Homo sapiens: one gene and its partner. The protein of the gene in region 2 purifies or fractionates together with the protein of the main gene of each other region. This does not show direct contact. Each region holds a gene or a part of one and is shown on either strand. Other genes may lie near its edges.

Region 1 (3,825 bases), on a different chromosome or scaffold from region 2:
TTTATTTGGGGGTGAATGCCAAAAAAATAGCATCCTTAGATAAGAATACTATCCTTGAGCCACTAAGTATCACTCAGTGTCTGCATATGAGCTTTTCTTCAAGATAAAGATCGCACAGAATTTTGTGTTTACCAGGTCCGCAGAAGTAGAGGCAGATAATGCCATCTATGCCAAACTTCCAAAGTGAATCTGTGAAGAAGTCAGGCACCTCCTTGTCTAATAAAACTAGATTTTAGTCATTAGATTGTGATGCCCTGTACTGGTCCACCTCTAGAAGATTATTATCGTAAGTTGTATTATTTTAAAGGCCGTTTGGAAATTTGCATTCATGTGAACTTCTTGTCCTTGGGTCTGTCTGCCTGCCCTGGACCTGGGTTTGTATCTCGTTCCTAGAGGTTTAGTGGTGTGGAAGTCTTCTGATTCCTTGGTGCAGTGTCCTCACGGGCTCATGGTGTGTTCTGTGCTCAGTGATTTGGTCAGTTTGTTTTGTGTTTCAGCTTGTTCGCATTGCCAAGGTTCTGGGTACAGAAGAACTGTATGGGTATCTGAAGAAGTATCACATAGACCTAGATCCACACTTCAACGATATCCTGGGACAGTAAGTAAGAGAGAGAGAGAGAGTGCTTTACCTTACCCCGTTTCAGAAGTGGAAAGGTTAGCCAAAATCACTTTCTTTTCCCATTCTGATTATAGTAAAATGGAAGTAGCCCTCTTTTTTCCTATGCATATTTTCTTTTAACTTATTGAGATATTTGGACTTTATGTCTTTTAATCATTTTACTTCTCTGAGAGATAACCTATTAATAGAAAAGGTAAAACAAAAATCATAATGTTATAGAAAAAAGTTTTCTGGTACAGCAAAAGCTTATTTTTAATGGCCAAACTTGGAGAGCAATGATTCTTTGAATAAGAGACTTAGTTTGTTTTTTATTATATTTTATTTTATTTACTTCATATCTCTTCAAGGTGGACTTACAATTTCTTCTTGTTCTCTGTAATGGATTTTCTATACAATAGCAAATTTTAAAGCACATTGAGTTTTCAGGTACATTGCAATAATGTTGAGAAGTAAACATTTTGTTAACAGTTTTCAAACAGTATTTTATGGAACCTCCCTGTTTCTGAGGCTAGCCCTGGGAAATATATCTGCTGACCAATAAAAATTGCCCACTCTTCTGCATGCCACCCAGAATTGACTAAAAGTCTACAGCATAAAAAATAATCTAGAAAGGTTCCACATATTCTAAATGAGATATAGAAGTTTTACCTAGTTGTATTTTTCTAATCACAGAGCACCATTGTGTTTCAGGATGCTATGCTGTAACTATGGGGCCGTAGGGCAGGCACCAGTTAGAGATTTAACAAGCTTGTAATCAGTACATTATTCTGAGATTTTGTTGGCTTTAGCCCTAGTAGATAAGGATTCTTGTTGAATTTAGTCTCTGGTTACTAATGCTTCATTTTTCTTCTCAGACATTCACGGAAACGCTGGGAAAACTTTATCCATAGTGAGAACAGACACCTTGTCAGCCCTGAGGCCCTAGATCTTCTGGACAAACTTCTGCGATACGACCATCAACAGAGACTGACTGCCAAAGAGGCCATGGAGCACCCATACTTCTGTGAGTCTCCAGGGACTGTGTTCAGGGAGTAATTCAGTCAAGAGAACAAATCTTCCACTCTTTGTCTTTGAGACCAGTCAGGAGAATTCTAGGGTATTTGGATTGGATTATTCCTAGAATTTGGCCTCATTTATCGTAGATGATTGAGACAACTTTGCAGATCCGTTTCTTGATCACCAAAGGTGTTTGCTTATTCACTGAATGTATCTCCCCGGAGTTCAAGCTGTTTGACTACTCCCTGTTACCCTGAGTTAATAGATCGCAAGTTTCTAAAATTTCTTTTTAAACATACATATATTTGTGTGGAAACCTAATTGAAGATTATTTCTCCCCTCAGAAAACTAGTAATTAGTTAAAAGTAGTAAGATAACTATTGTATGTTTTGAAAGAAGGAGATGAACAGATGGATGGACGAAAGGAATTTGAGGAAAGGGAAGTAAGTGTGGAGAGGCCTCACTGAAATCTTGACTGAACTGCTCACTTAGAAGTGTGTGTGGATTCACTTTGCGTGTTTGCTTATTCTTCTGCATGTGTATGGTTCTTTCCTCTGATAACGTGTGTTTCAAATAAACTTCCTCCTATTATCAGTCTCCTTCCTGGGGAGCAGGGAGGTTGAGAGACTTACCTCAGTCGCTTTCTGAATCAAGAGGGAAACGTTCACCCCTTAAAGTCGTTGTCTCTGGCTTAACAAACATGCTGTCTTTCCCTCTCCTTTGATTTCCTCTGGAGATGAACTAAATTCTTGCCTGAAGAATGTGTCGCTGTAGTCTTGAGCCTGTGGCCCATATGCATAAGGGAGACCGCAAATGGAAAAGCCTTCAGCCTTCTAGACCTCAGCCCCAGGAAACTCAGATGTCCCCGCCCCAGTGTCTGGCACAGAAAGCTGTTTTTACCCGAGTTAGATCAAATTAGGAATACTGATGTTTATGACATGTCATTAATGATCTTTCTGCTTTTCTGAATATATGTCATACTTCAATTTAAAAAATTTCAAACTACGGTTGCTTAAAATGGATAGGTCTTCTGATGGCTCTTTTTACTCACCTTTCCTTTGAAGTGCTTGTTATTCTACATGCTTTGAAGAAATTAGGGGTTAGAGATGATATTAATATTGAAAGAAAATAAATGTAGAAATTTGAACAGTGGGAAATTAGAGTTTCTATGCCTCTTAGCATTGAGTCTGTACTCCGAGGAAGGGTAAGAGTTGACTGCAATAACAATTTCCCTGATCATTTTTCAGTGTTTGGTTTTTATATGGCTGGAATTCCGTGATTTCCGTCTCTCCTGTTGCCCCCCTGACCCTGGCTTGCCCATCAGTCTGTCTCTCTTTCCGTTGAAAGGGTGGGTTTGCCATGGGCTTCTCTCAGCACTCACCACCCTGATTGCCTGACTTTCCTCCTGCTTTCTTGCAGACCCTGTGGTGAAGGAGCAGTCCCAGCCTTGTGCAGACAATGCTGTGCTTTCCAGTGGTCTCACGGCAGCACGATGAAGACTGGAAAGCGACGGGTAATGCGGCATTGATGCTTGCCAATAAAACCAACCAACCAAACACAAACCTTGAAGGAAAACTACAGTGTGATAAAAAGAAATTCTTATCATTCCTTCTAAATGCACAGAAGAGTAAAGACCTAAAAGTCTGTCAAAAAGCAAGAAAGAAACTCCCCAGTGCTAGTCTCCAGGGAGCTGTCACTGTGGCAGCATGGGGATGCACCTAGTTCAGGATCTGAAGGAGCTCTGCCTTTGGAATGCATGGGAGATAGAGACTCGGAGTTGTTGTACATTTACCTTTGTTTAACAGGGCACCACTGTTGAATTAACCCATTCAGTCAACAAGCTCTGAATGTCTGACTTCCTATCTATTCCATTGTGGTCTGGGTTTCCTTTGGTGAAATTCAGGCTCAAGTCTTAGCGAAATGTCAGCAGTCTATACTGACACACCAGCCTCATTTACAAAAAGGAGATATTAAAACAGTGACAGTATTTTTTTTTTAAGCTCTTTACAAATCCACGTTTTATGTATTTTTTAATGACATGAGCTCTCCAGGAAATGTACCTCATCCCCGCAGTTTTCCTCCAAGTGGATTCATTTGGGAGCAAACTGCAGTCACTTTCACAAGAGTCCTCTTTGATGTCAGGAGGGATCACGAAACCTTGCAATGCCATGAACTGGTCCATGGTTATCATCAAAAGTTCCATGCTAAGT
Region 2 (3,600 bases):
CTGCTGTTGTGCGTCTTTATATGGTGCTAATGCCAAATGTATTCACTTTTCCTATCTGAACATGGTCCAGGGACATGCCTCTCCCTGGTCAGGTGCAAAAATCCCACTGGATTTGAACCTTGGTTCCTCAGATGTATTGTCTAAAATGAGTCATTTAGGACAGTGCTTCTCAACTTTAAAGGGAATTTGAATCATCTAGCGATCTTTTTAGAATGTAGATTCTGACAATGGGATGATGATACTGGTCCAGGAAGGGATTTTGATAACAAGGACCTAGAGAAGCTCACACTTGTTCCAAAGAAAGGTTTTCTAAACTGCGACAGGTGTATACATTCATCATGTCAGTTATGTTCATCATTTTATAATAGCTTGAGCACACTGCATGGCACAGCAGGTGCTCAAATGTTTTAAATAATGCATGCATGTGGGTAGAACAGGAAGCGTGGGGAAGAGGGAACTGTGGAGTTTTTTGTTTCTGTTTTTGAATTTTTTTGTTTTGTTTTGGAGATGGAGTCTTGTTCTGTCTCCCAGGCTGGAGTGCAGTGGCACGATTTTGGCTTACTGCAACCTCTGCCTCCCGGGTTCAAGTGATTCTCCTGCCTCAGCTTCCTGAGTAGCTGGGATTACAGGCACCCGCCACCATGCCTGGCTAATTTTTTTTGTATTTTTAGTAGAGACAGGGTTTCACCATGTTGGCCAGGGCTGTTCTTGAACTCCTGACCTCAGGTGATCCACCCACCTTAGCCTCCCAAAGTGCTGAGATTACAGGCATGAACCACCGTGCCCAGCTTTGTTTTTGATTTTTGAGATAGGATCTCACTCTGTGGCCCAGGCTGGATTGCAGTGGCAGGATCATAGCTCATTGCAGCTTTGACCTCCCTGGCTCAGTTGATCCTCCTGCCCCAGCCTCCCAAGTAGCTGGGACCACAGGTGCATGCCACTACACCTGGCTAATTTTAAAAATTTTTTGTAGAGATAGGGGGGTTTCACTGTGTTGTCCAGGCTGGCCTCTTAACTCCTGGGCTCAAGGGATCCTCCCACCTAGGCCTTCCAAAGTGTTGAGATAACAGTTGTGAGCCACTATGCCTGGCCAATTTTATATAGGAGAGGGGGGTGTGTTCCCATGAGGATCCTTATCTTTCCTGAGCGGCATTAGTGGGAGGTAGCCAAGGGGTAGTGGGTAGGATTGAAGGGATTGCTAACTGCTAATATCTGGAATGTGGCAGAACTTGGAATTAACTTGGTAGGTCTGAGCATTGATACTGGAGTTACTCATGACAAAGGCATTGATACTGGAGTTACTCATGACAAAGGCAGAGTGTGAACTCTGATCCCGGAGGAAGAAGGGTTATTTTCAACAATCTCTTCAGCTTGAATAGATTGTTGCTGTGTGTGATTCAGGTTTGGTGCATGACACCTTTCCTCTTCATGGAGCTGACCTAAGGCGGAATATAAGGGAGATGGGAGGGGCAGCTTGGGAAATCAACACCTCCCACCCTCACGACGGATAACCCGAAGGATCTTCTGCAGCAGAGGCAGGAGTCTGGAGGCTGGGATGGTATCAGAAAGGGCCTCCCTGGGTATTGGAGGCAGTGAAGATGAAGGGCGAGAATCCATTGGCCGTGCCAGTACGCCATGGGGGCGGTTGGGAGATCTTGTAGAACAACTGTTCGAGCCCGCTTGTCCACTCATTACTCTGGAATCCGAGTCCCAGCAGGGGCGCGGGAAACCGCTGCTCTGAGAAAAGGTACCTCCCCCAGAAAGACTGCGCGGGAAGTCCCGAGTTTTCCCGCCACGCCGAGGGCGTGATCCCTGACGTCAGAGCTCCGCCTCCACAAGCTGGCGGCCGGTGGGCTCCGCCCTTAACCAAGATGGCGATACGCGTGGGACCGGAAAGAGTTTATAGATTTCCCGTCTACCCTACCTCTGAGGTGAAGGTGGGACTGCCCTGTGGAGCCCACCCTTTCCGTTATGCGCCCGCGCGGCGCAATGACGTAACACAGGCCCGCCCACTGCCCCTGTTGGGTTCCTGAGTCGTGCTGCGTCGACAACGGTAGTGACGCGTATTGCCTGGAGGATGGCGGACGCCGGCATTCGCCGCGTGGTTCCCAGCGACCTGTATCCCCTCGTGCTCGGCTTCCTGCGCGATAACCAACTCTCAGAGGTGGCCAATAAGTTCGCCAAAGCGACAGGAGCTGTGAGTTCCGGGCTTGGGGCGGGGACCGGGCTGAGATGACCACAAGGCTTCAGGCCCTGACGTGCTTAGGTTTCCAGGTGGGGAAGTCTGGGGGTCCGCCAGTCCAGTGTCTGCAAGGCCTTTACGCCGACCCCTCGGCAGTGACCAGAGAAAGCCTGCGGCCTCGGTCGCTTACCTTCCTCCATGTCTGAGTAGATATCGCTGAGTCTTGTTGCTTTTTTCTTGTGACCTGTGCAGCGGCGGCAGCGTGGGAGCCTCGTGGCCCCAAGCCACATGGCTGGCAGAGTGCAGCGGGGAGGTAGAGTCTTGTTCCACTGAGGACGTTGGTTCTTCGGCATCTTCTGGGGGGCTTTTCGTTGGGTGAGGCAAACCGTGATTTGACCTTAGCCTCAGTCACATTTACTGGGATTCAAAAGCAAGTGAAATTTCTTTAGAATGAAGTCTGGGATTTTCGTTTGTAAAGAAGAAAATGAATGAAAGTAGAAGCAGAGTTTTGTTTTGAGTTACACTGAGAATTGAGAGTCATCAACAGCCCTACCAAGTAGGCATAGTAGTGGGCTTGGAGCTTTGGCTAATTGAATCAAACAAACCTAGGTTTGGGACCAGGCTCTGCCACTTTTTAGATACGTGACCCGGGCAGTTTATTTAACCTTTCTGAGTCTTTCTACAGGGATGTCATCATCCACTTTATAGGATTTTTGTGAGTTTCAGTAAGATGATGTGTAAGAGTAGCAATCTCAGTGCTGGTACAGAGGAATCTTGTAAAAGTGAAAGCTGTACCATAGTTATGGCAATTTAGGATGCTCCAAACACATGTAAGAGTAAGAGAACCAGGAATGTGAAAGGTTTGTAATCTACATCAACGGACATTCCTGCATGGGAAGACACTTTGAGAGAGGAGAGAGGGGGGGTCTTCAGCAGGGATGATAGCATGACTAGGAAGGATGGCTTGCACTTTTAGCAGAATCAGGCTGCGAAAGCAAAGAATCAGATCAGCCTCAAAACTTCCTTAAGCTGGGACAGGCTGCCATGTGATCTAACTGCTTTCTTAATGAAACTGTTTAGAGTTGACTGTTAAGGAGACTGCGGAGAGTGCTTTCACAGTGGACTGGATGGAATTGGACATTTCAGAATTAGGATTCTTTTTTTTTTTTTTTTTTTTTTGAGACGGAGTCTCTGTTGCCCAGGCTGGAGTGCAATGGTGCGATCTCGGCTCATTGTAACCTCCGCCTCCCAAGTTCAAGTGATTATCCTGCCTCAGCCTCCCCAGTAGCTGGGATTACAGGCGCGTACCACCACGCCCGGCTAATTTTTGTATTTTTAGTAGAGATGAGGTTTCACCATGTTGGCCAGGCTGGTCTTGAACTCCTGACCTCAAGAAATCCACTTGCCTCAGCCTCTCA

What was found. The genes of interacting proteins can lie anywhere in the genome.
Region 1: the proteins of NOLC1 (region 2) and CSNK2A2 purify together in Homo sapiens (affinity purification with mass spectrometry; 5 studies listed by BioGRID and IntAct, with this or other methods). This does not show direct contact.

What each region holds. Positions count from the first base shown.
Region 1 is NC_000016.10:58,163,357-58,167,181, reverse strand, and holds part of CSNK2A2 (casein kinase II subunit alpha'), read left to right. Parts: intron 1-497; coding exon 498-598; intron 599-1,473; coding exon 1,474-1,622; intron 1,623-3,034; coding exon 3,035-3,111; 3' UTR 3,112-3,128; exon of another isoform or gene 3,129-3,825.
Region 2 is NC_000010.11:102,150,334-102,153,933, forward strand, and holds the start of NOLC1 (nucleolar and coiled-body phosphoprotein 1), read left to right. Parts: upstream 1-2,055; 5' UTR 2,056-2,077; coding exon 2,078-2,197; intron 2,198-3,600. UniProt on the Homo sapiens protein: Nucleolar protein that acts as a regulator of RNA polymerase I by connecting RNA polymerase I with enzymes responsible for ribosomal processing and modification.